2 separate regions of the Homo sapiens genome follow, and region 1 is linked to region 2. The links come from fine-mapping of genetic effects on gene expression. Tissue or cell type: whole blood. Region 2 holds a variant in brackets; the other region holds the start of a gene. All regions are shown on one strand. Distances are between the middles of the regions.

The links.
Region 1: FASN starts here. The variant in region 2 is fine-mapped to the expression of FASN in whole blood (TwinsUK, PIP 0.92).

Annotation. Positions count from the first base shown.
Region 1 is chr17:82,094,659-82,108,235 of GRCh38, reverse strand. It overlaps FASN (fatty acid synthase), which reads left to right and starts at 10,000. Exons shown (of 43, transcript NM_004104.5): 1 at 10,000-10,115; 2 at 11,784-11,917; 3 at 12,764-12,916. The coding sequence starts at 11,791. CCDC57 (coiled-coil domain containing 57) reads left to right here. Exons shown (of 19, transcript NM_001394669.1): 19 at 6,370-6,766. The coding sequence ends at 6,554. RefSeq lists enhancers at 1-715, 1,225-1,614, 1,845-2,174, 2,215-2,264, 10,776-11,691 and 2 more and silencers at 8,828-10,307, 10,378-10,567, 10,588-10,797, 10,858-10,907.
Region 2 is chr17:82,112,365-82,129,155 of GRCh38, reverse strand. CCDC57 (coiled-coil domain containing 57) reads left to right here. Exons shown (of 19, transcript NM_001394669.1): 17 at 559-663; 18 at 1,248-1,464. Among named protein-coding and RNA genes, the nearest start is that of FASN, 23 kb to the right of the region's middle. RefSeq lists an enhancer at 11,380-12,287. The variant T/AT (reference allele first, on the strand shown) is at 8,982.

The sequences.
Region 1 (13,577 bases), 19 kb after region 2:
ACTAGGAGGCAGAGCGCCAGAGCGGCCGCAGGTCACTCGTCTCTGCCACTTGCTCTCCGAGTGCTCCAGAGTCAAGGACTGCGGCCTGGCCAAGGGGACAGTGGCCTGTGGCCTCTGACTCTGAGCTTGGAGAAGGCTTGCTGCTCCAACATCACGTGGACAGAGGCAAGGAGGCACGTGGGATTGGGAATGGGGATAGAGACCAGCCTGCCCCAGGAGCAGGTGGGTCCACCAGAAATGCTCATGCATTTGCTGACCAGGACTTCCATCCTGAGGTGTGTGCAGAGTGATCCAAAGCCCCCTCGTCCGTGCCGTGACTCTGGGCCCTGGAGCCCACCCCCTTTCTTTAGAAAAGCCTGTTCTGTAGGCATCTGTCCTGAGAGCACCCGATGGCACTGTAGGATGCTGAGAGCAGCTGAGGCAGGAGGGCCGGCGGCTGTTCCCTCCCAGAGTCCCATCTCAGGTGGACGCCGGTCCACGACTTCCAGCCCAAGGGCTAATGTGTCTTCTCCAGTCCACGTGGCAGGTGTTGCCAGGGGAGCGGGCAGTGCAGCTGTTGGACAGCAGGGGGTGTTTCTTCAACCCAGGCTGCCCTCCTTCTCCTGTCACAACAGGGCCCCATTCATTCTGGAACCTGCAGACCAACTCCATCCGCCCATCCTCACAGTGTGCCGAGCGCCAGGTCCAGAAGCACGCACCTACCTGGGGGCCTCTTCCTCCTTTCTGGCGGGGGTCCGCTTTGGCCCCTGATGCTAACCTCGCCCCGTGTGCCGTGCAGCTGGAGTCAAACGGAGGCGCAGAGACGCCATGGAGGGTGACAAGCCACACAGCAGGGTTCGAGGCAGCCACTCCCCACTCCCCACTCCCGCGGCATCTGTGCCCCACCCGGGTGCCAAGCCACTGTGCCATGCATCCCCCCACCCCCAACCTGCTGCAGGTGTGTGGGCCTTTGCCTCTTTTCCCAGGGGAACCAAAAACCCTGGGATCCAGAGGGTCATTGCCCAGATCTCTGGAGAGCAACTCCAGGGGCCTGGTCTCCAGGGGAGAAGAGGGAGTGGGGAGAGGCCTTTGGCCAGGCATGTGGCCCTCAGTGTCCTGAGCAGGTCGGGCAGCTGATAAGTGTGTGGCTGGCGTAGCTCCTGCAGAGCCAGGCTCCCTGGAGGAGCGTGTGGCCTCCTTCCCAGCTGTCCGCCCTCCTGCCAAGACATGCAGGGAGCAGCCCTGAGACACGGGTCTCAGGCAAAGTGAGTGGCAGGCAGTGCTGTTCCCCGGGGACATGGCGGTGACCTGCTGGTCTATGGCCCTGAGATGCTAGGGTGCCCACCTGGAGCTGTAAGCTGGCCTGGCAGACCTGGGAAGGCCCCATGGGCCCCTTTTGAAAGTTCCCTTTTCATGAATTTTACCCAGAATCTCCCCTGCACACTGGCCCCTGCTGCTTTTTGCTGTCCCCAGACAGTGCCAACAGAGACCACGAGTCGTCTAAACACCAGCCCAGGCACTCAGCACTCAGTGCAGAGTCCTGGCCCAAGGGGCATGAGGCCAGCATTCCTCACTTTAGGACCAGGAAACAGTTCCCATGCCTCCGAAACAGCGGAGACAGCTGCCACTTCCTGTCGCCCCAGCTCAGCCGCTGCCTGTCACTTTCCTTCCGGGGCCTCAGGGCGTTCTCCTGCGTTTACTCTTCTGAAAGGCAGGAGAAGGGTGGGGTGTGGAGATACCCAGAGGCTGTCCAGCTCTCAGGCCACTGCCTGGCCCTGGCTCTCACCGTCTCAGCCTCCTAGTGGCCTCCTCGGCACCCACCAGCCTGCAGCCACCTGTGCTTGGGGTTCTTGGCACCTCCCCTTCCTGTGGGCTGAGCTCAGATGGGCTCTGGTCGGGAGCCGGCCCAGGAGGAAGGCCATGCGTCTCTGGGTCTCTTCTCGCCCAAGTGAGGCCTGTGTGCCCGCCTTCCGTGATGCAGCCTCCGGTAGGGACAGACCCACGTCTCTCAAAGCCTTATGCCCACGATGTGTTTCCCTTGAATTCCCTTCCTTGGGGCTCCAGCTTGCACCCCACTACTAGGTGACTCCTCTCAAGGGCTGGGATGGGGCCCACATTGGGCAACACTGACAGGCTGTAGCAGACAGGCCTGGGCAGGCTCAGCAGCAGCAGGGGACCTGCCAGTGCCGTTGGGGGAGTAGCCACAGGCGCCCAGAGGAGGTGCTGGCATGAAACAAGGGGTCAGCCTGTGGTCGGCGCCCAGGCCCCCGAGGGCCCACCTCTCCTCTGCTCCAAAGGCCAGCAGGCGGGGCCTGAAGGATCTGGGGTTTCCTGCTGGCCCTGCCTCACCAGGCTGAGTGATGGGTGGCAGGACTGCCCAGAGCCCTGGAGCATGCAATGTCCAGTACCCTCCCCTCTTGTGCATCTGCCCAGTGGGGGCTCCAGGCTCCATGTGCCAGTGAGGTGGGGAAGGCAGCTGGACATAGCAGGCCCGGAGTGTCCCCCTGTGGAGGGACCGTGGGAACCAGATCACGTGGGCCTCCCTCCCCCTGTACCCCATTGCTCTCCTGTTGTCACACTCAGTCCCACAAAGGCAGCCCCGGGGCCACGGTGACCCCCCAGGGCTGAGCTCCAGGAGCTCAGGGGTGGGGGTGTCCATTAGGAGACTTTAGCAGGTGAGGGTTGACGCAGGCTGGGGAGACACGGGTGGGCGTGGCCTGTGAGCCTCCCAGGCGTGGGGACCCTGGAAAGGTGCACGCAGCTTCTGGAGATTCGGGGTGGGGGGAGTCAAGTCACATTCACTGTCACCGTCTGCACTAAAGGCCTGGGTGCCGTGCTGACAGTGGTGGGAAAAGCCTTGTTCCCAAGAGACTTGGAAATAACTAGATGCATTTGAGAAGGGTTGATCTTGGGTGCGTGAGGACCCCTGTGGCAGCCAGAGGGGGTTCAGCAGAACAAGGGCCCTTGACACAGCAGGGGTGAACCACACAGAGCAGCGGAGGCCACAGGGAGACGGAAGGGCCTCTGTGCCACAGAATGGACTTGAGGCCTGAGCTGCCATCAGGGCCAGGCCCTCCCCAGCCCCAAGGCAGGCTCTGGAGAACCAGGGAAGGCGTGGGCTCACCGTCTGGCCCTTCCCAAAGCCCTAGGAAGCCACGTAGGTGTGCCCAGGGGCACCCAGAGAGCCCGGAGCAGCCTGGAGAATGAGCCACCAGAGGCCAACTTGGTCAAGAGCTGAGCTGAGGCTCAGGTGCAGGAGAAGAAACTCACAGGGTGGCCAGAAAGCTGGGGACCAGCTCCGTCCTCTTTGTGCTCAGAGTTCTCATGCCCCCAGGCTGAGACGGGAGTGAGGGCCGCACCTTCCCTGCAATAGGACAGGCTATGTCCTCCCTGAGATTCCACCAGCTTCAAACCTCCAAGCCGGGCTTGGTGGCCCACACCTGTAATCCCAGCACTTTGGGAGGCCGAGGTGGGTGGATCACGAGGTCAGGAGATCGAGACCATCCTGGTTAACATGGTGAAACCCCGTCTCTATTAAAAATACAAAAAACTTAGCGGGGCGTGGTGGCGGGCGCCTGTAGTCCCATCTACTCGGGAGGCTGAGGCAGGAGAATGGCGTGAACCCGGGAGGCGGAGCTTGCAGTGAGCTGAGATCACGCCACTGCACTCCAGCCTGGGCGACAGAGTGAGACTCCGTCTCAAAAATAAAAATAAAAATTTAAAAAACCCTCCAAGTATGGTGCAGCCGCCTGAGGGGACGGAGCCCAGCCTGGGTGGCCCTGCCTCAGCACACACCAGGACCTGGGAGGGGTTAAGCCTGGGAGGGGCAAGCAGGCCCCAGTCCCCCTCCCCTGGTTAATCACTGCAAGGCCTTGGATGTTTCAGGAACTTTCCAGAAGCTCAGTTCGGGGCCAGAGCACAAGCAGCCCGTGGGGGAGGGGTGCAGGACCCAAGAGGCGCGTTCCTCACGCTGTGCCCGGCAAACTGTGTGTCCACATGGTTTCCCTGCGGCCCAGTCAGCCCAACGCAGAAAGAGAAATCCCGGCCAGGCTCGGCAAAACAGGTCAGGCGAGAAGGCGGGGCAGAGAGTGGTGGAGGCCAAGAGCGTTTTTACACACCAGTTACTGGGTTGACCTCAGATTAGCATCAGGTAGAAGAATCCGGGGTCACAGGGAGTCACGCCTGGGGCAGCCGCCTTGACACATCCAGCTCCGTGCCTCTGACCTAGGACTGGCTGGGCTGGGGCTGTCCGCTGCCCTGGGGTCCTGGGCTCATGGCCAGTTCCCTGCCACCATCACTGAGGAGGGCTCCGCAGGAAAAGGACCAGTGAAGAAACCAGAGCCTGTAAAGTGGATATTCTGAGCTAGGGGCCGGCCTGCCCTGGGGAGGGGGCCAGCTCACCCTCCCTGCCCCTCCCTGCCCCTCCCTGCCCCGGGGACTGTGACCCACTCACACCTCCCTGCTTCGCCCCGGGATACAGCCAGGGTCCTCCCAGCAGGGCCAGCTCAGGCCTCCCAGGCAAAGGGGCAGGCCCTTCACCCCCCTCCCTCAGCTCACTTTTTCTGAAAATCCCCACAGGCTTTGTCTGAGGAGGATCAAGCCGGGCAAAGCCCCCAGAATCCCTGAGCATTACAGAGGGACAACCAAGGCCTCTGGGTTTGAGGAGATGCCTCAGGGTCACAGTGGAGCACTAGGGCCTGGTCAGAGGACCAGCTTCCCCGCAGGAAGCCCTTTCCACGGGATACCCCACCCTCTGCCAGCCAGTGTGGGGGGTGGGGGGAGGGAGTGGGGATGGGGGCGTTGGCCGGGACCAGGAGGTCAGGCAGGCTTATTGTTGAGAGATAAAGGGTGGTAGCCTTTGTGTGAAGAGGAGGAATTCCTCTGGGGGTTGGAAACAAAGGGAGCAGGCAGCGTCCAGGGCCCCCCAGGACCCCAGCAGGGGGCCAGGGACTGTGTGACCCCAACGGGGCTGCAGGAAAAGGAAGACTGGTTCCGGGTGTCTTGAGACCCCAAGAGTGGATCGGAGTGGAAGAAGCTGAGATGGGAAGAGGGGCCCAGGGCCAGGGCTGGGAGTGTGTGGCTGCCCCCATGGGCACTGCGCAGCCCAGCTGAGAGTGCGTCATTGCCGGTGTCCCCAAAGCACAGACGCTTCCCAGTCACCCAGGCTGCACGCAGACCACACAGGCTGGGCTCCAGCAGGAGGCGTTGGCCGCCCGCTGACCTGCCTGGGTCAGCCTGTCCAGACTGCCCACTGGGCCACATTCAGCCACGTGCTGGAGTCCTCTAGACCTCACCCCAGCCACAGTGTGGCCACGCAGTGGACGCTGAGCTCACATCTTACTGTGGGGTTTTTTTTGTTTTTTTTTTTTTTGAGATAGAGTTTGCCCTTGTCCGCCCAGGCTGGAGTGCAGTGGCGCAATCTCGGCTCACTGCAACCTCTGCCTCCCGGGTTCAAGCGACTCCGCTGCCTCAGCCTCCTAAGTAGCTGGGATTACAGGTGCCCGCCACCGTGCCCGGCTAATTTTTTGTATTTTTAGTAGAGACGGCGTTTCACCATTGTTGGCCAGGCTAGTCTTGAACTCCTGACATGAGGTGATCCACCCACCTCGGCCTCCCAAAGTGCTGGGATTACAGACGTGAGCCACCAAGCCCAGCCCTTGCATGGATTTTTAGTAACATTTTGCTGTTGTTTTACCAAAAAAAACCCCCACATTCTTAATTGAAAAAATGAAAAATAGAGAAAAACTGGCCAGATAAAGAAGATCACCTACAACACCCCTCTGCGAAGATGGTTTTAGCCGATGTTTAGGAAGGGCTATCTGGCATTTAGGCCCCAGCCTCTGTGTGTAGCGCACTCCTGGGCCCTTGGCCTGTGCCTGGCCACGTGGTGCCCACCAGCACGGCCTTTCCTTTGGCCTCAAAAGCCTGGCACTGCTGGCCCATCGGGGAGGCGGGGGCAGGCAATGTGTCTCAGATGGTAGGGACACCCGGGGCAGCCTGGGGGGAGGAGCTTTGAGTCAACCATTTACCCCAGCACCCCTGCCCCCTCCTGGGACCCATTACCACACAGCACCCCTGCCCCCTCCTGGGACCCATTACGAAATGGTCACAACAGGACCATTTTCAGAGCCACATGTCCAGGTGCCCAGTGGAGGGGCAGGCCCAGTCCCTGCCAAGCAGGACCCACTGAGCAAGGCGAGGCCACAGCTCTCTGGTCACTCCAGGATCCTTTGGCCTTCACGGACTCCTGGAGGAAAGCCAGGCCAAGGGTCACAGGGCCCCCGCTGGCCGGGAACACGGAAGTGCTGCACCTGTGCAGTGCCTGTGAGCACAGCCTCCTGCTCCCCCTGCCATCCTGATGCATGCTGTTTTTTCCTCTTTACCTGACAGAGCTCCCAGCTCCTCCAGCAGCCGACAGGAGGCCCGTCAAGATGCAGGCAGGCATTGCCACCCCAGGGATGAAGACAGCAGCCCAGGCAAAGGCCAAGACCACAGGAGCCTCCCGGTCTCATCCTGCAAAAGCTAAAGGCTGCCAGAGGCCCCCCAAGATCCGTAACTACAACATTATGGACTGACTTCCTCCCCCCACCCCGCCCCACTAAGGGGTGCTCGGGGCCTCCGCATGGTGCCTGTGCTTTCACCTACGTGTTGTGGGGGGGTGTGGGCACAGCGTGCAGGGTGGAGGCAGGGAGCTGCAGGGCAGGCTCCCAAATGCTGCTGAGGCGACCCTGCTGACTGAAGGCCTCCCTGAGCACAGGGCCCATTAAAACCAGGTTCCTCCCTGGGGCGTCTGCTTGGCCTTAGCGTTGTTTATCTGTCCTACTTGGGAAATGCAGTATCAAGTGCCTGTGCCAGAGCCTGGCCTGCCCGTGTCACCACCCACAGCCATCTGCACACCAGTGGTGTTGGGGACAGTGTGGCCTTCCTCAGAGCCTGGTAGCAGGTAGGGGGCAGATCAGAAAGCCCACCCACAAAGCAGGCGTCTCCTGAGAGTACCATGGGAGGGGCCCTCCCAGAAGGAGTGAGAGCCTTGGATCCCAGTGAACCGGGCCAAGGTGACCCCTGGAAGCCAGGTGGGCACCTGGGCCTCATGCAGGTTGGGGTGTGCATGTCAGGTGCTGGCAGGGTGGGGGCCAACCGGGGACAGCGGTCACTGCTGGGCCTTCCACGTCCACCCCCACGAAGGATAACAGCAAAATGTCCCTGCCACCTGAGTGCCCGGGGCCAGGTACCTGCAAGGATGAGAAACGCACACGTAAACTGACGCCCGTCCGCCCGGAACACACTGCACTACCCCGCCAAAAAGCACTTCCAAGAGTCCTCGCGTGTCCTCCACACGAACACAATGCTCTGCGACCGGCAGGAGGGTGACTGGGGGTGGTTCATCACACGGACGCAGTGCTCTGCAACCGACAGGACGGTGACTGGGGTGGGGGTTCATCACACGGACGCAGTGCTCTGCGACCGGCAGGATGGTGACTGGGGGGGGTTCATATCCCACCCCCACTCCTCAGGAGCCCAGTCTCTGTCCCCCGCACCCCCCAGGCCTGGTCACACTCTGCCCACAGCAGAGTGCAGGGGTGGAGGCAGCCGGTACCCAGCTGGGTGAATTGACGGGCCTTGCCATATACCCTCGGGCCACCTTTCTGAACTGGGCAGACAGCTTCTCTGGGAACACGATGGGAGAACGCTGCTCCCAGCCCTAACCTGCCGTGCCACCTTGGCAAATCGTGGGACCTTTGCAGCTTTGGTTTGCACCCCCAGTGTAAAATATAGACAGTGCCATCGGCTGGCCTAGCTCACAGGTGTGCGGGCCGGATAACCGTGACAAGCAGAGACCACACCACACAGACAAAGGCTGTGGCCCCAGGGCAGGGGCGTTTGAGGTTAGCCTCCGTCACTTGCTCCATGGGAATCCAGACGGAGTTGGGGATGGGCTGGAGGCTCTCAGTGCTCTGTGGTCTCCCACACATGTCCCCTGGAATCGAGTCACGGCCCTGTGAGGTTTTTTTGTTTGTTTCTTTTTTTGAGACAGAGTCTTGCTCTGTCGCCCAGGCTGGAATGCAGTGGTGCAATCTCGGCTCACTGCAACCTCTGCCTCCTGGGTTCAAGCTATTCTCCAGCCTCAGCCTCCCGAGTAGCTGGGACTAGAGGCACGCGCCACCACACCCGGCTAATGTTTGTATTTTTAGTAGAGACGGAGTTTCCCTGTTTCCCAGGCTTGTCTACAACTCTTGACCTCGTGATTTGCCCGCCTTGGCCTCCCAAAGTGCTGGGATTACAGGCGTGAGCCACCAAGCCCGGCCGCTGCCGCTCACTTTCTGTGGAAGCCCTCAGGGTGCTGGACGAGTCTCCAACCTCCTTGGGAGCCAGCCAGGGCTCCCCTGTAGCTGGCCCAGCCCTCGACAGGCTGCAGAGAGCAGGGCCCCGCTGGCCGCTGATCACCAGCACTGGCAGCCAGGGCCACCTGGGAGGTTTGGAGCATGGAGAGCCGGAGCTGCGTGCCCGCACGCCTGAGGCTGACACAGGGCCTCACCCTGAATCAGAAGAACCCCCGCAGTGGGGACAGCAGTGCGGGGCCAGCCCCGGCCCTGTCTTCCCTTGTCCTTCCTTGACCCTCGGTCCCACCGTGCGTCAACCACAGCCCCAGAAGGGAAAAGACGCGGAGTGGCCGCCTGACCCTCAGGCCTGCTCTCAGGAGAGGAAGGAAGCGGGACACCTGCAGAGGGGCCGGGGGCCCCAGTCTCCGGTTCCCCTTCAGCGGCCCGGGCTTGCTGAGCCCTCAAAGTAGGACACGCAGCCAGAGACACCTGTGGCCTCACAAGGCCCGCTTGCCCCCCATGGGGTGCCTGGCCCCGCAAGCGCGAAGCGGTCAGAAAAGGGAGGCCGCGCTTCAGGGCTCAGGCCGCCCAAGGGGCCACGATTCGAGGAATCACTCGGGAGGGAGGGAGCGCGCGAGGGCCGGGCTGAGCCCCCGCCCGTGGGTGCGCGCCTGGAAAACTCGCAGCCTCCGCCCTGGGAAGTGGGGCAGCGGCTCCCTTTGTCCGCACCACACCAGGTGGGTGTCCCGGCCGACTCCGCTCGCCACGTGGCCGCGCCCCTCCCCTCCGCCGAGCTCCAGCGGCCTGGAGTGCGCTCGCCCGTTCGGCCCTGCGCCTCGTCCGGGTCCCCGGGAAGCTGCTAAGGAGGGGCCGTCGGGTGGGTGGACGTCCGTCTCGGGTCTGGGTTCCCCGCCGCACCCGCGAGGAAAACCGGGGATGCGCTGCGATGACCGGCAGTAACCCCGGCCGGGGCGCCCGCGGCCGGGGTCAACGCCCGCACTTGCGCCGCGGCCCGCGAGGCATCCGGGACCGCCCCGCCGCCCGCCCATCACCCTATCGCCTAGCAACGCCCACCCGCGCGCCGCCATTGGGCCGGTGCGAACACCCCTGGCGCCCGATTGGTTGCTGCTGCCGCCGCGCCGCGCAACGCCGCGCCCTCAGCCAGCTCCGCGCGGGCAGCGACGGCGGCGTGGAGTCGGCGGCCGAAGTGCGGGCACGCGGGTCCGTCCGTCCTTCCGCGCGCCTGTGGGTCCGAGCGCCCCGCCGCAGCCGGCTGGACCCCCGGTGTGGCCACGGGGTAGTCCCCAGTGTGGCCCAAGCATTCCCATCCCGCACACGTGGCCCCGGCGGACACGGGGGTCGGGGATGGCTCGGGAGGCGCGCCGCGGGCTCGGTCGCAGCCGCGTGCGCGTCGGGGCCCGCGGGGCGGGAGGCGGAAGTCGGGGGGCGGTGGTTTCCCGCCCGCCCCGCCCCCGGCGCTCCTCAGTCCCAGCCCCACCCCCCCAGGCGCGTTCCCGCGCAGGGTCCCGGCTCGGGCGGCGGCGCGCACGAGCATCACCCCACCGGCGGCGGCGCGCCGGGTCCCGGGGCGCAGCCCCGACGCTCATTGGCCTGGGCGGCGCAGCCAAGCTGTCAGCCCATGTGGCGTGGCCGCCCGGGGATGGCCGCGGTTTAAATAGCGTCGGCGCCGGCCTAGAGGGAGCCAGAGAGACGGCAGCGGCCCCGGCCTCCCTCTCCGCCGCGCTTCAGCCTCCCGCTCCGCCGCGCTCCAGCCTCGCTCTCCGCCGCCCGCACCGCCGCCCGCGCCCTCACCAGGTACGAGCAGCCGGCGCTGGGGCCGGGGCGCGGGTCGTGGTCGGGGCTGGGCCCGGGGTTCCCGGGGTGGCCCGGCTCCTCATCCTCCGCTCTCGGGGCGCGCGTGGCCCGGCCCCGTATCCAGGGGTCGCCTGGGCGGCCTGTCCGGGTCTCGGTGTTCGTGCCCCTTCGGAGGCGCCCGGGGCCCCGCGGAGTAGGTGGGCGGATGGCGGGGGAAGGACGCCGGGGAAAGCCACCAACAGCCGCCTTCGCTTCCCGTGGGGGAGGCCGCGGACCCTGAAGGGCCTGGAGGAGCCCCCGGCTCGGCCTCCCCGCGCCCACAAAGGCGCCGCCGCATCCTCCTCCCGGAGCCGCCCCGGAGCCGAGGCCCAGCCCGAAGGGGACGCCGCGAGGGAGGAACGGGGGGGCGCAGGGGCCGCGCCGGGACCGGCCTCCCCATCACGTGGCGCAGCCCGGCCGAAGCGCAGGGGTCCCGAGCAGCCCCCGCCCGGGGCGAAGGGAGGCCGGGCGCGCCGCGGTGTTCCCACCCCCTGCCTGGCCGTCGACCCCGCGTGAATAGCAAGCGGCGAGGACCCAGCGTGCGGGCCTGGAGCTGGCCCGGGGCAGCCAAGCCTCTGTGAATCGCAGCGGGTGGGAAGGCGGCCGCCTCCCTGCCGGGACGGCCCAAGGGAGGCCGCACTGCCGAGGGGCGGCGCGCGTATCAGGCCCTGGGGCCTCGTGCAAGTGGCCAGACCAGCGCTGGCCTCCGCCCCCTCCCCCCAGGGCCGCACCAGCCCTCATGCTGGAGGAGGAGCCGGCGGCCTGGGCACCCGTTCCGGGTCTTAGGGACCTGGGCTCCAGGGAGGGCCTCCTGTGGTGTGTGGGTTGGTATGGGGAGGCAAGCGTCTGTGGGTTCACCCGCGCAGGTGAAGGGTGCCAGGCAACACCTGCGTGTCCTGGCCAGGAGTGGTTCTCCAGGTTGGACCCTGCTGGAGGGGTTGGACTGGCTGGGTCGGTCCACAGTGGGGCAGGGGCCACCTTTCCCCCAGAGCATAGGCTATCCCCATTTCGTCCCTCCCCAGCCCTGGTGGCTCTTGGGCTGGCCTGGACAGCGGGCCCCCACCCCAACACGGGTGAGCATGGGTGCTGAGTACCCCCCTCTAGGGCTCCCAGCCACCTCCATGCCCCGGCTTTGGGACCCTGCCTCTCCATTTCTTTGATGGCCCTTAGCAGGCTGGCCACCTGAGGCCTTGTCCCCATCTCAGGTGACCCTGCCTGCTCCTCACTGTGAGCCCCCTGGTGCCCTAGGGATGGCCTGGGACAAGCTCCAGGAGCCTTGGAAGGCTGAGACTCAGGCGAGTGGAAGCCGACACAGGCGCAGAAACCAGTAACTGCTGGGGAGGCCAGGGCTGCAGGGCTCCAGTGGGGTACCCCAGCCAATACCCTGAACTGAATGGGTCAGGGCCCAGAGGCGGGCCTGTTCCCAGAGCACGCAGCCCCTCCCAGCGAGAGCGGGGTCAGGGCCCAGGAACTGGCCACATGAGGAAGGGAGCCGCAGGAGCCAGGGCCCGCACGGACCCTCAGGGTGGTGCTTGGCCCCATGGGTGTCCACCTGTTCTGGGTGCCGAGGCTGTTGACGGGGGTGTCGTGGCCGGGATGTGTGGGGCACTCACACCGCCCGCCCTGCAGAGCAGCCATGGAGGAGGTGGTGATTGCCGGCATGTCCGGGAAGCTGCCAGAGTCGGAGAACTTGCAGGAGTTCTGGGACAACCTCATCGGCGGTGTGGACATGGTCACGGACGATGACCGTCGCTGGAAGGCGGGTATGTGGCTGCGGGGCTCCCCGTGCCTGGGGTGTGAAGCTCCATCTCCACCTTTGTCCTCACAGCAGCCTCCCTGCTGTGCTGTGTCCTCACCACCCAGGCACTGGCCTGAGGCCGGTCCCAGCTGCAGAGCCACTGGTCACCCATGGGCGAGGCCTAGCTGCAGCCTCCTTCCTGGACATTGCACCAGAGTGGCCTAGAAAATGCGCCCAGCCTGCCAGGAGGTTCCCTCAACGGCTGCAAGGCCAACAGGAGGCTCCCCCAATGGCTGCAAGGCCGAGGGCTGGCCCAGGCAGGGCCCATCTGCTTGTTACGGAGGAGCCAAGCTCAGAGGATGGGTGACGGGCTGGGGTCTCTCACCCATGCAGGGGGTGCGGGGGGCCAGAGCCCTTCCGGCCAGGCTGCCCCTGCCTGTGTCTGTCCTGAGCTGGGAGGTTGCATACCAGATGTGCTCCGGGAGGCTGGAGCAACTGCCCCACACCCAGTAGGCTCTTCCACAGAGCAGCTCTACCTGACAGGCAAGCTGTGAGTCAGCATGGTAGAGCCGAGGCACCAGCCCGGCAGATGGTCCCCCAGCCTCACTCCCGCCGAGCTCTCTGCTCTGCGGCCCATCTCAGGATTGGGGCTTGGGGCTTGGGGCTTGTGCAGCAGATCTGGTCGTACCAGTCCCCGCTTTGGGGCCATGGTCTTCCCCTCCTGGGGAGCCTGCTCCATTGTTTGGGCCTCCCAGGCATAGCAGAGAGTCCTCAGTTCCACCATGGCCCCTCCAGGGGCCTGCAGCACCCCACAGGGCCCCCACCTCTGGGCAGCTTCCGTCAGAGATTTAAACACCCGCCTGTCCCACAGGGCTCTACGGCCTGCCCCGGCGGTCCGGCAAGCTGAAGGACCTGTCTAGGTTTGATGCCTCCTTCTTCGGAGTCCACCCCAAGCAGGCACACACGATGGACCCTCAGCTGCGGCTGCTGCTGGAAGTCACCTATGAAGCCATCGTGGACGGAGGTGGGTCGGGCATTCGCGACTGCTGCGCCGAGGGCTCCTGCTGCTCACGTGGAATAGGCAGTGTTTTCTCTTCTTGGTTCTGGTAGAACCAGGTGCTGGCACCACCTACCCTCCCCGGCTGTGCCCCTGGCCTGGCCAACGGGCTCAGGGAGGTGTGGGCCACGGGGTAGGCCGCAGTTTCCCAACTGCACCCCAGAGGTGTCGCGGGTGTGCCCTGACCTGAGCGTACCAGTCTCCTCGCTTCTGATGTCTGGCTGGTGCTGGGGCCGGGGCCGGGGCTGGAGTGACGAGAGGCAAAGCAGGAGGTTCTTGAGGGGCCCTCCAGGCCCCCACCCCCACCAGCCAAGCAGCGGACAGCACCGGCCCTGCTGTCTCTCCCCTCCCACCCTCCCCACTACCCTTGCCCACGTCCCCCCACCCCAGGCATTTCAACCCTCTCCCGCCAGCCTGGCCCTCGCTCTGACTGGCATTTGACCTCGGACAAGCGCCACGCCGTTTTTTTATTTTTATTTTTATTTATTTATTTATTTTTAAGACGGAGTCTCACTCTGTCACCAGGTTGGAGTGCAGTGGCGCGATCTCAGCTCACTGCAAGCTCTGCCTCCTGGGTTCACACCATTCTCCTGCCTCAGTCTCCTGAGTGGCCGGGACTACAGGCGCC
Region 2 (16,791 bases):
CCTGAGGTCAGGTGTTCAAGACCAGCCTGGCTAATATGGTGAAACCCTGTCTCTACTAAAAATATAAAAACTAGCCGGGCATGGTGGTGGGTGCCTGTCATCCCAGCTACTTGGGAGGCTGAGACAGGAGAATCACTTGAACCCAGGAGGCGGAGGTTGCAGTGAGCCGAGATCACGCCACTGTACTCCAGCCTGGGAGACAGAGCAAGACTCCGTCTCAAAAAAAAAAAAAACAAAAAAGCAGGATCGGCCAGGTGGTGTCACTGGGGGCCACTCGTGTCCATCTTGGGCCGGGGGGCTCTCACCCCAGGCAGGCCATGCATAGGCTGCCCTGGCCTTGCAGAGAAGGCTCCTGGGAATGAATGACTGGGGAAGCCTGCTCCATTCCTCCTGTCTGGGAAACAGGTCCCTTCAGTCCGGGCTGTCACCAAATGGTGTGAGTCTTTAATACCAGAAATGTGGGAAGGCATTTCTTCCCAATCTTGTGGGAAAACTCACTGACATGCACCATCAGTACATGTGAATACCAGAGTCCTCTCATTTAAATCCCCACGGCAGGACGCCAAGAGTGCCGAGGATGAGGCTCCTTCCAGACACTTGGGAAAGCACCAGCCCCGCTCAGCACAGGTGGGCAGCAGACTTGACGCCCTGCAAGGCCCGAAGGTGAGAGTGGCGGCGCCCGAGCAAGTGCAGCTGTGTGGGGTGTGGCCAGCAGGGAAGCCGGGGCCTGGGTGCTCTGGGCCTCTCGGAGGGGCCTTCGCTCTGCATGCCTGCCTTTGTGCCGTCATCAGGGACTGCTCACAATGGCAGGGTGAGCTGCAGAGCGTTTGCCGGGTGGTCCCACAAGGGTGGTAAGAGTGTTAGGAGGGCCCCGGGACCCCTAAAGCACATGGGGCCCACGCTGGCCTTTCCTTTCTGTGCCCCTCAGGGTATCTGCCCTGCATTTCAGCTCATTCCCCATCGAAACGAAACAGCCTCTGCCCTAGACATGTTTTGTCATTTAAGTGTTGAGACGAGCACTGAGATTCAGGCCCTGCCCACACTCAGCGTTCCCAGCGCTGAGACTCGCTCCCCGGATGCATCCCTGTCTGCAGCTGCCTCTCCTGGGTGATCCTGGGAGCATCTGCCTGGGCCTTTAAGCCAGGCCCACTGTCGCCTTACTGCTCCGAGGGGAGTGGTTGGGGGGAGTCCTGTGGCTTCCTCTGGGTTGGAGAGGGTGGCTTTCAAGACGATGATGTCTTTTCTAGACACAACACAGCATCCACACGGTGACCTGTAAATCACCTCGGCAGAAAGAAGACAGGTCCCCAAAGCCACCCCAGGCTCCCCAGCACCCTGAGGAGCATGGTCGCCAATCCCACAGCTCCTCCTCCTTTGCCAGTGGCACCCTCCAGGACATGTGGAGGTTGCTAGACCTGGGATCCAGCCCTTCTGGTGTCACCTCCCAGGGTGACTCAACTCCAGGTAGGAGACTGCCCTCCCCAGGAGCTGCCCACAGCTGGCAGCTGGCGAGGGCCACCCTCTCCGAGGGGCATGTGGAGAGTCAGCACCCTGCGTGCCTCCTGCACCCTGAAATCCCTGCACTTTGGTTGAGTAATGCATGGAGTCTCTTTACCTCTCATTTGGCACCTGAGTGTTTCCCGGGTTATGGTGCAAAGCCCTGAAGGGCAGAAACCATGCCATTTCCTAGTGCAGCACCGTACACCCGGGCGCACACTGACTTAGAATGCAGCACCGTACACCCGGGCGCAGGCTGACTTAGAATGGAGCACTGTACACCCGGGCGCAGGCTGACTTAGAATGGAGCCCAGGTGAGACGCGTGGGCATTGGTGCACTTTAGACGGCCCTGCTCCTGGGGAAGAGCCAGGTCGACCCCAGCGATGCTCCCGGGGAAGAGCCAGGCCGACCCCAGTGATGCTCAGCCTCACGGGCCAGACAAGTGTCAGCCGCATCCTCATCCTCGTCCTGCTTTGCTGCGCGGACGTTGCCGCCCTGAGACTCTTCTCTGCACCTAAGTCATAGGCCTGGTAAACTCAGCAGGTCACAGTGCCAGCTCCTGCTACTGGTCTCAGGAAGTTTTCAGAAAAGTCTGTTTGAAGGGTGCACCTTGTGAGGACTGCATGGGTCTGTGATGTAGCGAGAAGGGGGGAGGGAAACAGATGCTGCTTCGAGGCAGCTGGAGTTGCGGGACGTGTGATGTGGTTGGGGCGGGAGCGTGCGTCCTTCCTGTGTGCCTGCATGGAGGGCGTCCCCTTCTTACCTTACAGCTTCTGTCTTCCGTCATGAGGGTGTGCCTCATTCATTTAATCATTCTCTCCTTCATGCGCATTTTAGGCTATTTCCAGTCCTTTACCGTCACAGATACTGTTAGAATAGTAACCTTACAGGCTGCAGTGTGTGTGAAAACACACGTGTACGTGCCCCAGGGGCTTGCGTAGTCAAGGCTGCCCGCGTGCCACGTGTGGTGGACAGCATCGCCTCAGCCTCCGCCACCCACCCAGAGGCTGCTCCCAGCAGCAGTGTCTGAGAGTCCTGTAGCCACACGGAACTTTTGCCGGTGGCAGCAGGATTGGCATCAGCGCCTCTGCTGGGAGGTCGTGCATCTTCGTGTGTGTTTAGGAGCCACTTCCTTTCCCTGTTCTTCAGTTACCTGCCCATTTGTGTATTAGATTGTGGTCTTTCTTATTGATTTGTAGCAGCTCATTATATGTGATAGAAATTAGGCCTTTTCGGTGACAACAATTTAAATGTTTTCTCCCAGTTCTTCATGTTTTTAAATGTTTATTATGGTGTTTTTTTATGTTCATATTTTTTATTTTTATGTAATTTAATGTCCTTGTTTTTTATCTTGTCTGTTTTTTTTTTTTTTCCTTTGAGATGGAGTTTTGCTCTTGTTGCTCGGGCTGGAGTGCAATGGCGCAATCTCAGCTCACTGCAAGCTCCTCCTCCCGGGTTCAAATGATTCTCCTGCCTCAGCCTCCCCAGTAGCTGGAGCTACAGGCACCCGCCACCACTCCAGGCTAATTTTGTATTTTTAGTAGAGACGGGGTTTCACAATGCTGGGCTGGCTCGTCTCGAACTCCTGACCTCAGTTGATCCGCCCACCTCGGCCTCCCAGAGTGCTGGGATTACAGGGGTGAGCCACCGTGCCTGGCCAGAACCACTTCTTATTAACCCCCAAAGTGGCAACGGCTCCCAGTTTTCCATCGCTCACACTTCCCGCATATTCGGACTCCCACCTTTGTCATGGTGCTAAATGTTCCATGTGCTTTTGGAGCTATATCCGGACGGTTCGTTCGGCCACTCTCAGTCTGTTCACAGGCAGTTCCATTGGGTCAGAATCAGTGTCACTTCCTGGTCCTTTTACATGTCTGGCTGATGTAGGATCTCCTCTTTATCCTTCTCTCTCAGGGTTTTCTTGGTTATTTGCATGTATTTGTTTTTTCTTTTTTCTTTCTTTTTAAATTTAGTAGAGAGAGGACTGGAGGCAGTGGCTCGTGCCTATAATCTCAGCACTTTGGGAGGCTAAGGCAGGTGGATCAGTTGAGGTCAGGAGTTCAAGACCAGCCTGGCCAACATGGTGAAACCCCGTCTCTACTAAAAATACAAAAATTCACTGGGCCTGGTGGCGCATGCCTGTAATCCCAGCTACTTGGGAGGCTGAGGCATGAGAATCACTTGAACCTGGGAGGTGGAGGTTGTAGGGAGCTGAGATTGTACCACTGCACTCCAGTCTGGGTGACGGAATGAGACTCTGCCTCAAAAAAAAAAAAAAATTTAGTAGAGATGGTGTCTCCCTATGTTGCCCAGGCTGATCTCAAATTCCTGGGCTCAAGCGATCCTCCCGCTTCAGCCTCCCAAAGTGCTGAGACTGCAGGCGTGAGTCACCATGCCCGGCCTTTTTTGTATATAATTTTTAGACTTGGCTTGTCTGAGTCTGGTTCCCCCAGCCCCTCCCCACAAACACTATTGTAAGTGTTCTTAGGATTGACGCAGCTTCCCTTCTGCCTTAGGAAGGAATGGGGTTGTGTGGCTTCCGTTCCCCGTGTGCTCCAGTGCTGGCATCACGAATGTGGCGCGTTTCTCTCTGTCTTCCACGCAGCCGCGTCCCACTCCGTCTTCCTGACCCTCCCACCTGCACTCCATGGCTCTCCTCTGTGCTCAGGATTCTTAGGGGCACCGCCTCCTTGCATTTTTAATTCACCACAAAACATTTTGTCCAAATTTTCATCAACTCAATGGAAAGTTCTTCTGGAGACGTTCGTGTTCATTCGTTTGCTTGTTTCCTTTCTCCTTTTCTCTTGGAGCACTTTCGTTTCTTGGCTCCCCCCTCATTTTTTTTTTCTTTTTCTCTTTTTAGAGACAGTGTCCCATTCTGTCACCGAGGCTGGAGTGCAGTGCGGCAATCTCAGCTCACTGCAGCCTTGACCTCTTGGGCTCAAGTGATTCTCCCACCTCAGCCTCCCAAGTAGCTGGGACCACAGGGACACGCCACCACGCTCAGCTAAGATTGTTTTAGTTTTTTGTAGGTACAAGGTGTCGCTCTGTTGCCCAGGCTGGTCTCGAACTCCTGGGCTCAAGTGATCCTCCCACCTTACGCTCTCAAAGTGCTGGGATTACGGGCATGAGCCACCGTGCCTGGCCTCATCTTTAGAACAGGTAAATTTTTACTTGACTAGCTATTTGAAAAAGTTTGTATGGAAAATGAAGCCAGAACCATCTTCCAGCCCAGCAGAGTCGTGTCGTTGATTTTAGCTTTAAATACAAGTCTCCACCTATCAGGCTTTTAACAGCTGATACAGCTTCTCTCTTCCCTTTCCCCACAGATACTGCACTTTGCAGATAGGGCCTGTTCTGTTCCTGGTTCACTCTCCCTCCTCTCTTCCAGGAACGGAACAAGGTCAGGGAAGCACTTGCTGCCAGCCCATGTTCCTACTCCTGAAACAAGGAATTAGGTCCTACCCTCAGGGTGTACCCTTGCCTTAGAGAAATGCCCTCTGCTCTTTCTGGGGTCTGTAACGAGGCATCTGTATGTCTTTGACACAGCCCTTGCCGAGTTCCTGCAGCCTTTGGTAGCCCCCGCCACCACCACCAATTCTAGCTCTTAGTTTTAATGAAAATGAAGTTTGCATTTTTGCTTTTCATTATCTTTTTTTTTTTTTTTTTTTTTTTGCTTTTGGATGATTTACAAGGATAGTGGAGGAGTGCTAGCTTCATGATGCCTTCTTCAAGTCTGAAATCTGTCTTGTTTTCTGACCAATGCAGCCAAAGAAATGCATATTCCTCCAAGCGTTGCTTTGCTTTAACCATGTCTCATAAATCTCAACATCCTCATGTTTCCCTTGTCTTTCCCTTGTAGGACTTATAACTCAACTCATTTTGCTTTAACTTAAATGGAATTTTTCCTTAAGTTTCTAGATTTGTGGAATTTTATTTTTTTGTCTGTTACTGATTTCTAATATTTTTACATTCTGGTCAGAGAATTAAATTACTATGATGTTAACTCTTCTGAGAGGGAAATATTAGTTCTTAAACTACAATTATCAATCTATCTGTTTTTGTCAATTGTTGCTTTATGTGTTTTGAGGTTCGCTGTTAGGTGCATACATGTTTAGGTTTTTTGCCTTCTTGATCTTTTCCTCCCTTTACCAGTATGTAACATCCCTCATAACCCCTCATGTTGTATTTCACCAAAAAACCTATTTTGTCTGACATGAAAATTGCTATAGGCCGGGCGGTGGCTCACTCCTGTAATTGCAGCATTTGGGGAGGCTAAAGTGGGAGGATCGCTTGAACTCAGAGGTTCCACACCAGCCTGGACAATGTAGTGAGACATCATCTCAAAAAAAAAAAAAAAAAAAGGGCCGGGCACACTGGTTCATGCCTGTAATCCCAGCACTTTGGGAGACAGAGGCAGGAGGATCACTTGAGCCCAGGAGTTCTAGGCCGCAGTGAGCTGTGATTACACACTGCACTCCAGCCTGGGTGAGAGAGCAAGACCCTGTCTCTACAAAAAAAAAAAAAAAAAAAAAGTTATTAGGAGGGAAGGAGTGGTTAAACTGTGCAGTGGAACGCTACAGGTAGGTCCAGTTAGGTCAGGACAGAGAAGCAGCCCCTGCTTTTTTGCAAGGTGAAGGTCACTGGTGGTCTTAAGTGTGGTCTCAGGGGGGTAGTAGAATTTTCATTCAATCCTTCCCGGCTTGGGGAGAGGATGGGAGATGGGATGGACAACATATCCAAGAAACTTTGCTCTGAAAATCAGCAGTGAAAAGAGGCCGTATTTATGAAGATGTGGAGTCAAGAGGGGAGGCTCACAAGCTGTCATGTAAAGCCTGCCGGTAGGCAGTGGGAAATGGGATGACTCAGGAGAGAAGTCCTGGAGGAGGCAGGGGAAGGGGCTCGGTGCCCGTGTGCAGGGCTGGCCTTTAATAGGACAGAGGCAGAGGTGGGCACCGAAGCCAGAAGGTTGATTGCAGCCAGTGCTGTGCACTTGCCCAGCCTGCAAGCTGACAAGCAAGCCTGGCGGGAGACAGGAGGCTCCTGGGTCAGAGACCAAGGGCTCTGTCCACATAGCAGGCAGCTGGGCAGGCAGTGGCTGCAGGTGCAGTGGGTATGCATCTCAGCTGAGGAACCCAGGCCTGGGGACCGAGTCCTAGAGCGACCACAAGCACCTGCCCTCCGAGTCCTAGAGCAACCACGAGCACCTGCCCTCCGAGTCCTAGAGCGCCACAAGCACCTGCCCTGGGCCTGAGGGAGATGCTTGCTCCGACTTCTGAGCTGCTTGCTGGACAGACGCCCTTGCAAAGGGTCTGCAGCAGTGGCCAGGGCAGCCTCCACCGTGCGGGAGTGCACAGGCCCCAGGGAGGCTGTCCCTGGTCCCAGCAGCTGGCCTGGTGGTGGGAAACGGTTCTGGCAGATTCCTTTCATTTCCTCTTACATGCTCAGCATCCAGGCTGAGAGCCCGAGGCCGGCCACAGGCTCTGAAGGAGGAAGGAGCGGTGTAGGAGGCTTGAGAAAGTGGGTTGTAAAATGGTGGGTTGGCGCCTCAGGAAGCAGATCCGGGAGAGAGTGAAGAGGGCCACCAAGCTCTCTGTGAGACCAGGGAGCTGGTGACCACAGGAGTCACCTGGGGCCGAGGCCGTGCTGCAGGAAGGAGCGTTCCTGACACAGCAGCACACGTCCACCGAGGCTGAGAGTGTGGGTGGCCTGGGAGGGAAGGCGGGCTGGTGTGGATCAGTTAAGATGCTTTTAGCTACAAGTCACAGGACAGGATATGAAAGTGACGTGAACCAGAGCTTCCCGGCCTTTATCTCCTCGTGGTAACTGTGGAAAATGACACGCCTCACTAAAATAAGGAGAGAACTGAGGGGTCCATATCCTGAGTGCCCAAAATGGTCTCAGCAGGCGGCATGCACGGCCCCATGGCAGGACGCGCTGACTGAGGCCCAGGAGCTCATCGGAGCCCTCAGTCCCAGGTCAACGGGCCTCAGGTGGCCCCTCTGGGATTCTCTTTTCTCCTAATGGCTCCGCAATGGCTGCAGACACTCCCACCATCCCCTGAGAAGGCCAAAAGGTGAAGGGCCTCTCTCTCCTGAATCTTTTTCTTTTAATCAGGGAGGGAGAAGCTGCCCAGAGCCCTCAGCAGACCTGCTGTCCATCTCCTGGCTGTGGGGGTCATGTTGCCTCCCTATGACCCGGCTCCAGGCGCCTGTCTTAACAGAGTCTTAGACCCTGAGCCCTGTGAGTGAGGTCATGTCCTCGAGAGCCTGCTGCCTGCAGCTCAGTAGCACTGGGGCCTCTTGGCAGGAAAGCTGGGGAAGCACTGGGGGCCTCAGCAGGTGGAGGAGGTGGCCAGATGCAGGCCCTGCCATGTCCCTGCCTCCCTAGGCTGAGACAGGGTGGCTGGTATTTATTTTTTCTTTATTATTTATTTTAGAAACACGGTCTCACTGTGTTGCACAGACTGGGCTAGAACTCCTGGCCTCAAGCAATCCTCCTGTCCCAGCCTCCTGAGTAGCTGGGATTACAGGCGGGAGCCACCATGCCTGGCAACGGCTGGTATTTCTTAGCATCGGTGTTGCAATTAAAAAGCAAGCAAGAGGCCGGGCGCGGTAGCTCACCCCTGTAATCCCAGCACTTTGGGAGGCCGAGGTGGGTGGATCACTAGGTCAGGAGATCGAGACCATCCTGGCTAACACGGTGAAACCCTGTCTCTACTAAAAATACAAAAAATTAGCCGGGCGTGGTGGCGGACGCCTGTAGTCCTAGCTACTTGGGAGGCTGAGGCAGGAGAGTGCTGTGAACCCGAGAGGCGGAGCTTGCAGTGAGCCGAGGTTGCACCACTGCACTCCAGCCTGGGCGACAGAGTGAGACTCCATCTCAAAAAAAAAAGCAAGCAAGAAAGATACGTTTCAGCATAAGTCCATGGGGCTTTTGATTCACCCTGTGAAGGATTTAGGAAAAGACTAAAGTGGTTCATGCAGTTGAGTTGTTTAATGATCTGCGAAGTATCTTGATGCTTTCCTTGTGTTTTGAATATTTGAGCATGCTTAACTGAATTATCTGTGTGATATTTTTACTTCATGTAAGAATACTTTCCTTAAAACCTTGGAAACTGCGTTGGTGAAGTAAGGGGTGCCACTTAAGGGCACCGGGTTTCTGGTTAAGATGCGACACTGCGCCCTCCAGTGCACCGACACTAGGACAGAGCGCAGCTCGGCAGTCGCTCGCCAGACAAGCAGTCTGAAAGCTCCATTCTAGAAACGGAGAGGAAGTTTCCTCCTCTTTTTTAAACGTGTTCCATGCATTGTGGGTAACAGAGTATGCACACTACACAGTCATGATTGGAGTTTAAAGTAATAATGTTGCCAGGCACAGTGACTCAGCCTGTAAACCCAGCACTTTGGGAGGCTGAGGTGGGCGGATCACTTGAGCCCAGGAGTTCAAGACCAGCCTGGGCAACATCTCTGCAAAAAAAAAA[T/AT]AATAATAATAATAATGAAATGATACTGAAATAGTTAACAATTTAGTGGCATCTAAATTAATGACATGAACGACTATTGTAGGATATGGTGTTTAGTCACGACGTCACACAGCTGTGTTGAACAGCCATACTCCTCTTGGACCTGGGATAGGCCCCGAACCACCCTCCTGCTCATGTCCTCAGCCCTGCTTTGCCAACCTATCCAGACCCAGCAGTCACCCCGTCCCAGGGCACGGCCAACCTCTGAGGCTGGAACAGCTGGCTGGAGTCGGGGCTCCCCCATACACCCTGGATGCGGCTCTTTGGAGGACCCACCTCCAAGCCTAGCCTCCTCTCTCACCTGCGTTTTTATGACAGCCTCAGATAGATAGGTCTCCCACACAGACTGCTGGGGCCCAGCACGTCCAGCCTCATCTCCCTCCCTTCTTCCCCCAGCTACCTGCACTCCAGCTCCAGCCTGTCTGCACCTGTGGGTGCCCCCCAACCCCTGTGCACCTGTGGGTACCCCACCTGCAGACCTTGCAGCACCTGCAGGCACCCTCCTTGTTTGCCCAGCACCTGCCTCCTCCAAAGGCTGCCCAAGAGACCTGTCCCCCATCCAGCTTCCTTCCTTCCTGCACCAGCCCCAGGCCATGCCATTTTTCTTCCTAAACTTGATTCTATCGGTCTGCTTCAGAATGTCTCGGAGGGCAGGGGCATGGTCTGCAGGTGGGGTACCCGTAGGTGCACAGGGGTGGGGGGGCACCCACAGGTGCAGGGGCATGATCCTTGATTCCTGTCTGCTCCACGTACAGGGAGATAACTGTGAGGGATGGGAGCATGGGAGGCCCCGAGTCTACAAAACCCAGGAGTCTCAGAAGATGTTAGTCTCAGATAATGCTAGAGAAACTACCAAGCATTATCCAAAAAAATGTTTGAGGCTTAAAAAAATGACACTTCCTGGATGGAAGCATTAAATATACAAAGGCAGCAGTTTTCTCCAAAGTAAAGTAATCTGTAGTGTCATTCTAATCAAAATACGACTAATTTCTCACCACCCCCACCCCCACCCCTGCCCCCACTCCCACCCCCACCCCCGCCCCCACCTCCCGCCCGCTCAGTGGAGCCTGGTAGATAAGAATGTAGTTGTTCTCCAGGAGCCAAGGAAAGAAAGAACCATTCAGCAATTGGCAGGGTGGGAACACAGCTTACTCTGATCTCCGCTTCCTCTCACGGGGACCACACACTACCAGGCATTCCAGGGCGAGGGAGGGACTCCAAGGCAAACCACGAAAATACGCAGAAGTAGAATGGAGTATTTACAAATGGCCGGAAGAGGGTTAACCTTAGATACGGGTGAAGAAATCACAGATTTCTAAGGTAGTGTTTTTACCTGAAAAATCATCAAACTGGAAAGATATTCTTCAGCAGCACAACAAAAGTCAGCGTACATAAAAAGCGCGGCAGACTGAGTGGCACCCAGTGCGGACGGAAGCTCTCCCTAAGGCAGTTCCAGAGAAGCACCCAGGCAGATGTCTGACCTCACCCCAAAGAAATACCTGCTTCTGAAGCCGACCCCCTGCAGCAGGCCTGCCTCCACCTCCCTAGAGTGCACCTTATGGGTGTGTATCAAGTGCCCAAATGTCCTTTCAGGAGCCGGTACAGGGACCAGCCACCCAACAGTCTGTCCCACGTGTGTGGGCAGCTAAGCCCCGCAAGTTCCGGAGCACCTCGCACCTCGCTGGGGCAAAGGATGTTCCAAACCCCATCTCCGGATGCGTGGGGCATCCTGCGCTAATGAATAACACATCAGGTTTCAGTCCTGCGCTAATGGATAACACCCACATCGGGTTTCAGTCCTGCGCTAATGGATAACACCACACTGGGTTTCAGTGGACTGTGTTCCTTCTCCCTCTTCTCTTACTCCCTCCCAGTCCCTACCCACCAGGCCACAACTGCCCAGTCCCCCTGCACCCCTCCAGACTCCCCAGCCACCCTCAGAACAGAAGTGGTTTTTTAAATATATGTGTATATCCTCTTTTCTTGTCAATTGCATATCGTGGGGGCAGCTTGCTTTTTTATTTATGTCTGCAGTATTTTTTATGTCAGTACACACAGAGCCGACAGATCTTTCTGGTAGTTTTGTGAGCCGCCGCATCGGCTCACCTCCCTTTGTTTTGGTGTCTGATGTTTGTGGACACTTGGACGGCCTGTCGTTTTTAGCTCTTAAGAGAGTGAACCTCCTGTGCGTGTGCCCTGCGTGCTCACAGAGGCTGCTGTTAGATCAGAAGGGAAATAGCTGGTCAAAGGTAGGGTCAGTTTGAGTTCTGAGCGCTGTTACCCAATTGCCCCCAGGACGTTGGCCCCCTGCTCCTGGTTGCAGGCGTGAGGCACCTTTCCTCACTCAGTATTGGTGGATTTAGCAAATGGTTTGTTTGTTTGTTTGTTTGTTGGCCAATCTGATAAGTCAAAACTGATACTTCATTATTGGTTTTAATTTGCCTTTTTTTTCTAGTCCATTTTATTTTATGTATGTATTTTGAGATGGAGTCTCACTCCGTCGCCCAGGCTGGAGTGTAGTGCCGCAGCCATGGCTCACTAAAGCCTCAACCTCCCAGGCTTCTCAACCTCCCGGGCTCAAGCATTCCTCCTTCCTCAGCATTCCAAGTAGCTGGGACCACAGGCACGTACCACCACACCTGGCTAATTTTTTACATTTTGTAGACAGGATCTTGCCATGTTGCCCAGGCTGGTCTCGAACTCCTGGGCTCAAACAGTCCTCCCACCTTGGCCTCCCAAAGTGCTGGATTACAGGCATGAGCACCTGGCCTAATTTGCCTGGTTGTTGTTTGAGTCAGGATCTCCCTCTGTCGCCCAGTACAGTGGTGCAATCTCAGCTCACTGCAAACTCCACCTCCTGGGCTCAAGTGATCCTCCCACCTCAGCCCCTGGAGTAGTTGGGGTTATGGCGTGCGCCACCATGCCTCGCTAATTTTTTTATTTTTTTTGTAGAGATGGGTTTTCCCCATGTTAGCCCAGGCTGGTCTCGAACTCCTGGGCTCAAGTGATCTACCTCGGCCTCCCAAAGTCCTGGGATTACAGGCGTGAGCCATCGCACCTGGCCCAATTCGCCATTTTTAAATGATGAGGTTGGTCATTTTTCCTATCAATTGGCCATCTTATATGTGGTTTATGTGTTGTCGACATTTTTGTCCTTTTCAAAGGGGACTAGGAAAGCTAGCAACAGAAAAATGGGCGTTTGTTGTGACTTCTGAAAGTCAGGGACTCGAAGGGAGACAGGAGCTTTCCGGAGAGGGCCCTGCTGTGGGGGGACCTAGACTGGAGACCAGAGGGAGGGCTGCAAGCCTGGTTTACAGATACACATAATGGGAATGGTTCTGTGTGTTTTCCTCGAGTATTTGTTGAGTGCCTACTAAGTGCCAGACACCATACCTGGTGTCTCACCTGTGCTCAGGTCTTTAGGCTAAGGCTGTACAGCTACTACCATCCCATTGTCAAATGCAGAAATGAGGCCCAACGCTACATGGCCACAGATCCCATAGCTGAGGGTCCCAAGGCCCAGCCCTTGTTCTGCACCCTGGAGTTCTGGAAGGGACTTGTCTGATTAGAGCAGGGGGAGGGCCAAGCATGTCCTGGGGTCAGAGGAGATGCTTGGCCAGAGCTTCTGAGGAATTCGGCTGTGCTGTGGGGGTGGGGAAGACTGCATAGGAGAAGTGGGTAGGGCCGCCATGTAGAGCCTCATCAAGATTGGGGCCAGGGCTCAGTGGGCCGCCCCTGGGCCGCTCCCTGGGGGTGGGATTTGGAGGCGGTCCCTGCCATGCACCCTGTGGGTGGGTCGGAGGTGAGTGATTTTGTTTTCTTCTAGGTGGAGGCCCCCCTGCCTCCCACCCTCACTCCCCACCCCACTCTCCAGCTGCAGAGGATGGTTTAGGAGCAAAAATGGTCACAACTTTAAAGGGTGTCCCATGTTAATGCTGGCTTTTTTTTTCTTTAAAAAATTTGTTCTTTTGAAATTTATATTTGTTTCTCCACAGATTTTGAGATGTTTACTTTAAAAAAAAAAAAAAAAAAAGGTTGTGGCCGGGCGCGGTGGCTCACGCCTGTAATCCCAGCACTTTGGGAGGCTGAGGCGGGTGGATCATGAGGTCAGGAGTTCAAGACCAGCCTGGCCAAGATGGTGAAACCCCATCTCTACTAAAAATAAGAAAAATTAGCCTGGCACGGTTGCAGGCACCTGTAAACCCAGCTACTCCAGAGGCTGAGGCAGGAGAATCGCTTGAACTCGGAGGGTGGAGGTTACAGTGAGTCAAGATCTTACCACTGCACTCCAGCCTGGGCGACAGAGTGAGACTCCATCTCAAAAAAAAAAAAAAAAAAAAAAAGGTTGCATAAATTTTTTGTATTTTTGAGACAGAGTCTCCCTCTGTCGCCCCGGCTGGAGTGCAGTGGTGCGATCTCAGCTCACTCCACCTCCCAGGTTCAAGTGATTCTCCTGCCTCATCCTCCTGAGTAGCTGGGACCAGAGATGTAAGCCACCATGCCCAGCTAATTTTTAAAAACTTTTTTTGTACAGACAGGGTCTTACTATGTTGCCCAATATGGTCTTGAACTCCTGGGTTCAAGCAATGCTCCCATGTCAGCCTCCCTAAGCGCTGGGATTACAGGCGTAAGCCACCATGCCTGGCCCATAAAATGTATCCTAAGGTCGCATAATTCTGTTAACTGGCTGCTAACTCGGTTAATTTTTTTAAACTGTTTGTAGAATTAGAGCATTTCTGGGCAGTTTTGTGTGTTGAAGACACCTTGTAGCCAGGCTTTTCTCATCTAAAGATCCAAAGGGAAAGAAGGACAAAAGCCGCCCCCTCTTGCCCCCTCTTGCCCCCTCTTGCCCCCTCTTGCCCCCTCTTCCCGGACAGCCCGAATGCTGGTGGAGCCTCCGCTGGAGATCACACAGGGCTCCAGTGACTGCCCTGCTCGGCCCCAGTGGTTGCCGCAGGCTGGGGCTCTTTGCTCAGATGAAGGCCAAGTCCAAAGTCACACAGCCCCAGCTGGTGGAATCAGGATCTGAATCCAAGCCCTGGATCCAGTCCAGGCCAGAGCCTCCTCTGCAGAGAAGGTACTAGGTGCCCATGCACAGGGTGACTGCCAGCCTCGTGGAGTGGGGGCAGTGGTGTCCCTGCGGGCGGGCTTGGTCTTCTGAGGCCATGTCAGTGCCACCCCAGGGCCGCCCTCCATGGCAGTGTGGGGCCAACAAGCCTGTCTTCCCATTTTTCTGAGAGAGGCTGGAAATCCTGTTCTTTTTATATATAAAGTGTTTCCTTTTCAAAATATTGGCAACTAAGTAAATCCAAACAAAGTATGGGCCAAATCATGGCACACTCCTGCCCCACAGGTGGCCCTCCAGCTAAGAGTCATGTTTACAATTTTAGAGGTTTGGTGGGCTCCAGTGGGACCACGCCTGGGGGTGGAGTGGCTGTGGGTGAGCGTGTCTCCACTCCCACACCTCGCCACTGAGAAGACAGAGCACGGGATCGTGACAGCCGAGCTCCAGCCGCCCTCCACCTAGTCACTGTGGCCCTGCAGGGGCTGCCAGCCTCTGCATTCAGGAGCCAGTGGGCGCCGAGGACACACTCCCTCCCTCCCCTGCCTGGGGTCCTGTGCTTTTGAGCTGAGACTGTTCTGGGCCTTTCCTGAAAGGATGGTAGAACGCCAGAGTGGCATTTCAGTGTGATTGGCCTCTGCAGGACCAGCTGGGCTCCCAAGACATAAAAACATGCCCTGAGCATTTGGCCTCAGCACCAGCTCATCCTCACGCCCCCGTCCCTCCCCCCTCACCCAGCCAGAAGTCCCCATGCTGCCTCTGGCCCCCACCTCCGCAGGCACTTTTGTGCTTCTTATGACACCCAGGGCTTTCGTTCATTTCGTTCAGGAGAGCAGGTCGGGATGGCCCCGCCATGGATGGGTGAGGAGCCGGCTGTGACATGTTAAGAAACGGGGACAGTGAAGAACAGTCTGTACCTCCTCTGTAAACGCGCAGGGAACGTTACAGTCCACTCTTCCATCTGTGGCGTCACTCTGTGTACTGACGAGGGAACCCCCTCAGGGCCCAGGTAACCTGCACTAGAAGGTGCACGTCAGGCTCCTGATGGCCAAGGTGAGATGGACAGCCCAACATAGCTGCAAGACCAAGCTGCAGGGCAGGCAAGGGGGCCTTGGGGCTCTTATTTATTTACTTTATTCTCGCTCTGTTGCCCAGGCCAGAGTGCAGTGGCACAATCTTGGTTCACTGTGGCCTCAACTTTCCAGGCTCAAGTGATCCTCCTGCCTTTGTCTCCTGAGTAGCTGAGACTACAGGTGCACATCACCATAGCTGGCTAATCTTTTTACATGTTATTTTATTTTTTTGTAGAAATGGGGTCTCACTATGTCACCCAGGCTGGTCTCGAACTCCTGGGCTCAAGCAGTCCTGCCGCCTTGGCCTCCCAAAGTGCTGAGATGACAGGTGTGGGCCCCACGCCCAGCCTGGCGTGGAGTGGAGCCCTTCACCCAAACATGAACCAGGAGGCGAGCTTGGTAAGGAGCACGTGGGCTCCAGGAATGCGAGGGGGAATGAATGGAGGCAGCTCCTCAGTGTGCAAAAACATGCAGCGCGGGCCTCACTGGTCACCATCACAGCAGCCTTGCAGTGGGATCAGGACAGTCCTGCTGTCCAGGAAGGAGAGGACCCTGCTCTCTTGTTTCTCACTACCTGCTCCTGTCGTTCTAGTCCCATTGCTGCTCTCAGGACAAGCTGTGACTGAGAGAGCAGGTCACGCTGGTGACATTTTATGAGGCTGGATGCACAGCCCCACAGCACCTTGTCACTGAAGCTACAGGAATCCAAGAACCAGTGCTCTGGCCAAGAAGGGAGCACTGGGGTGCCCTGAATGGCACGGACAACCCCAGCCCCCCGCCTTCACTGATTATCATGACCTGTGGCTTCTGAAAGGACAGGGCAGTCTTGGAACTTTCTGAGAAACAGATGGTCAAGTAGATGTCTGTTAGCTCTTTTCTTGAAATTGTAGTGACGAAACCATGACTGCCACTTAGGAAAGTAACTTGTGTTGAAATAACTTTTAGAACAAAGTAAATACATTAAGAAATAACCAAATCGGCTTACTTTCTGATAATATTTATTCTATGCCCACACAACGGCTGGCACTCACTTCTGCTTCTGGCCAGGCCGTAGTTACAAGGACCAGACTTTAATGTTCCTCCATGAACAACTAGAAAACTGGACAAAGTATATGAAACAACTGTTTGCAGACATTGGACAACTGGTCAAACAAGACCGAGATCCCCAACAAGACCGAGACCCTGGACGAGTCCGAGATCCCGGACAAGACCGCCACCCTTGTTGGAAGGGAGACAGGCAAGGTGAACCCTGGGGCCCTGGCCTTCTGCCTGAAGGCCGTTTCTGGGCTGCCGGCACAGGGAGGGAAGCAGGGCCTGAGCAAAGCTGAGCACCCTTACGGAGCTGAGACTGCACTAGGGTCTGGGGACACAGAAGGAGCCGGCATTTCAGGGCAGAATCCCGCAAGGAGGAAACTGCAGAAAAGAGCTCCAGAAATCTGCACAGGGTTCTCTTGAGTCTGTACTGAGGACCAGCCTGTACATGTATAGAAGAAAACTCCACAAAGCCAGGCAAAGAGGAGAAAGGAGCATGTAAGGTGAACAACTTCCAGACCTCGCACACGGTCATGACATACTGAAGCTCCAGCCAGGGGGATGGGTCCCCAGTGATCACTGTGGACATTCAGTGGAGACTCAG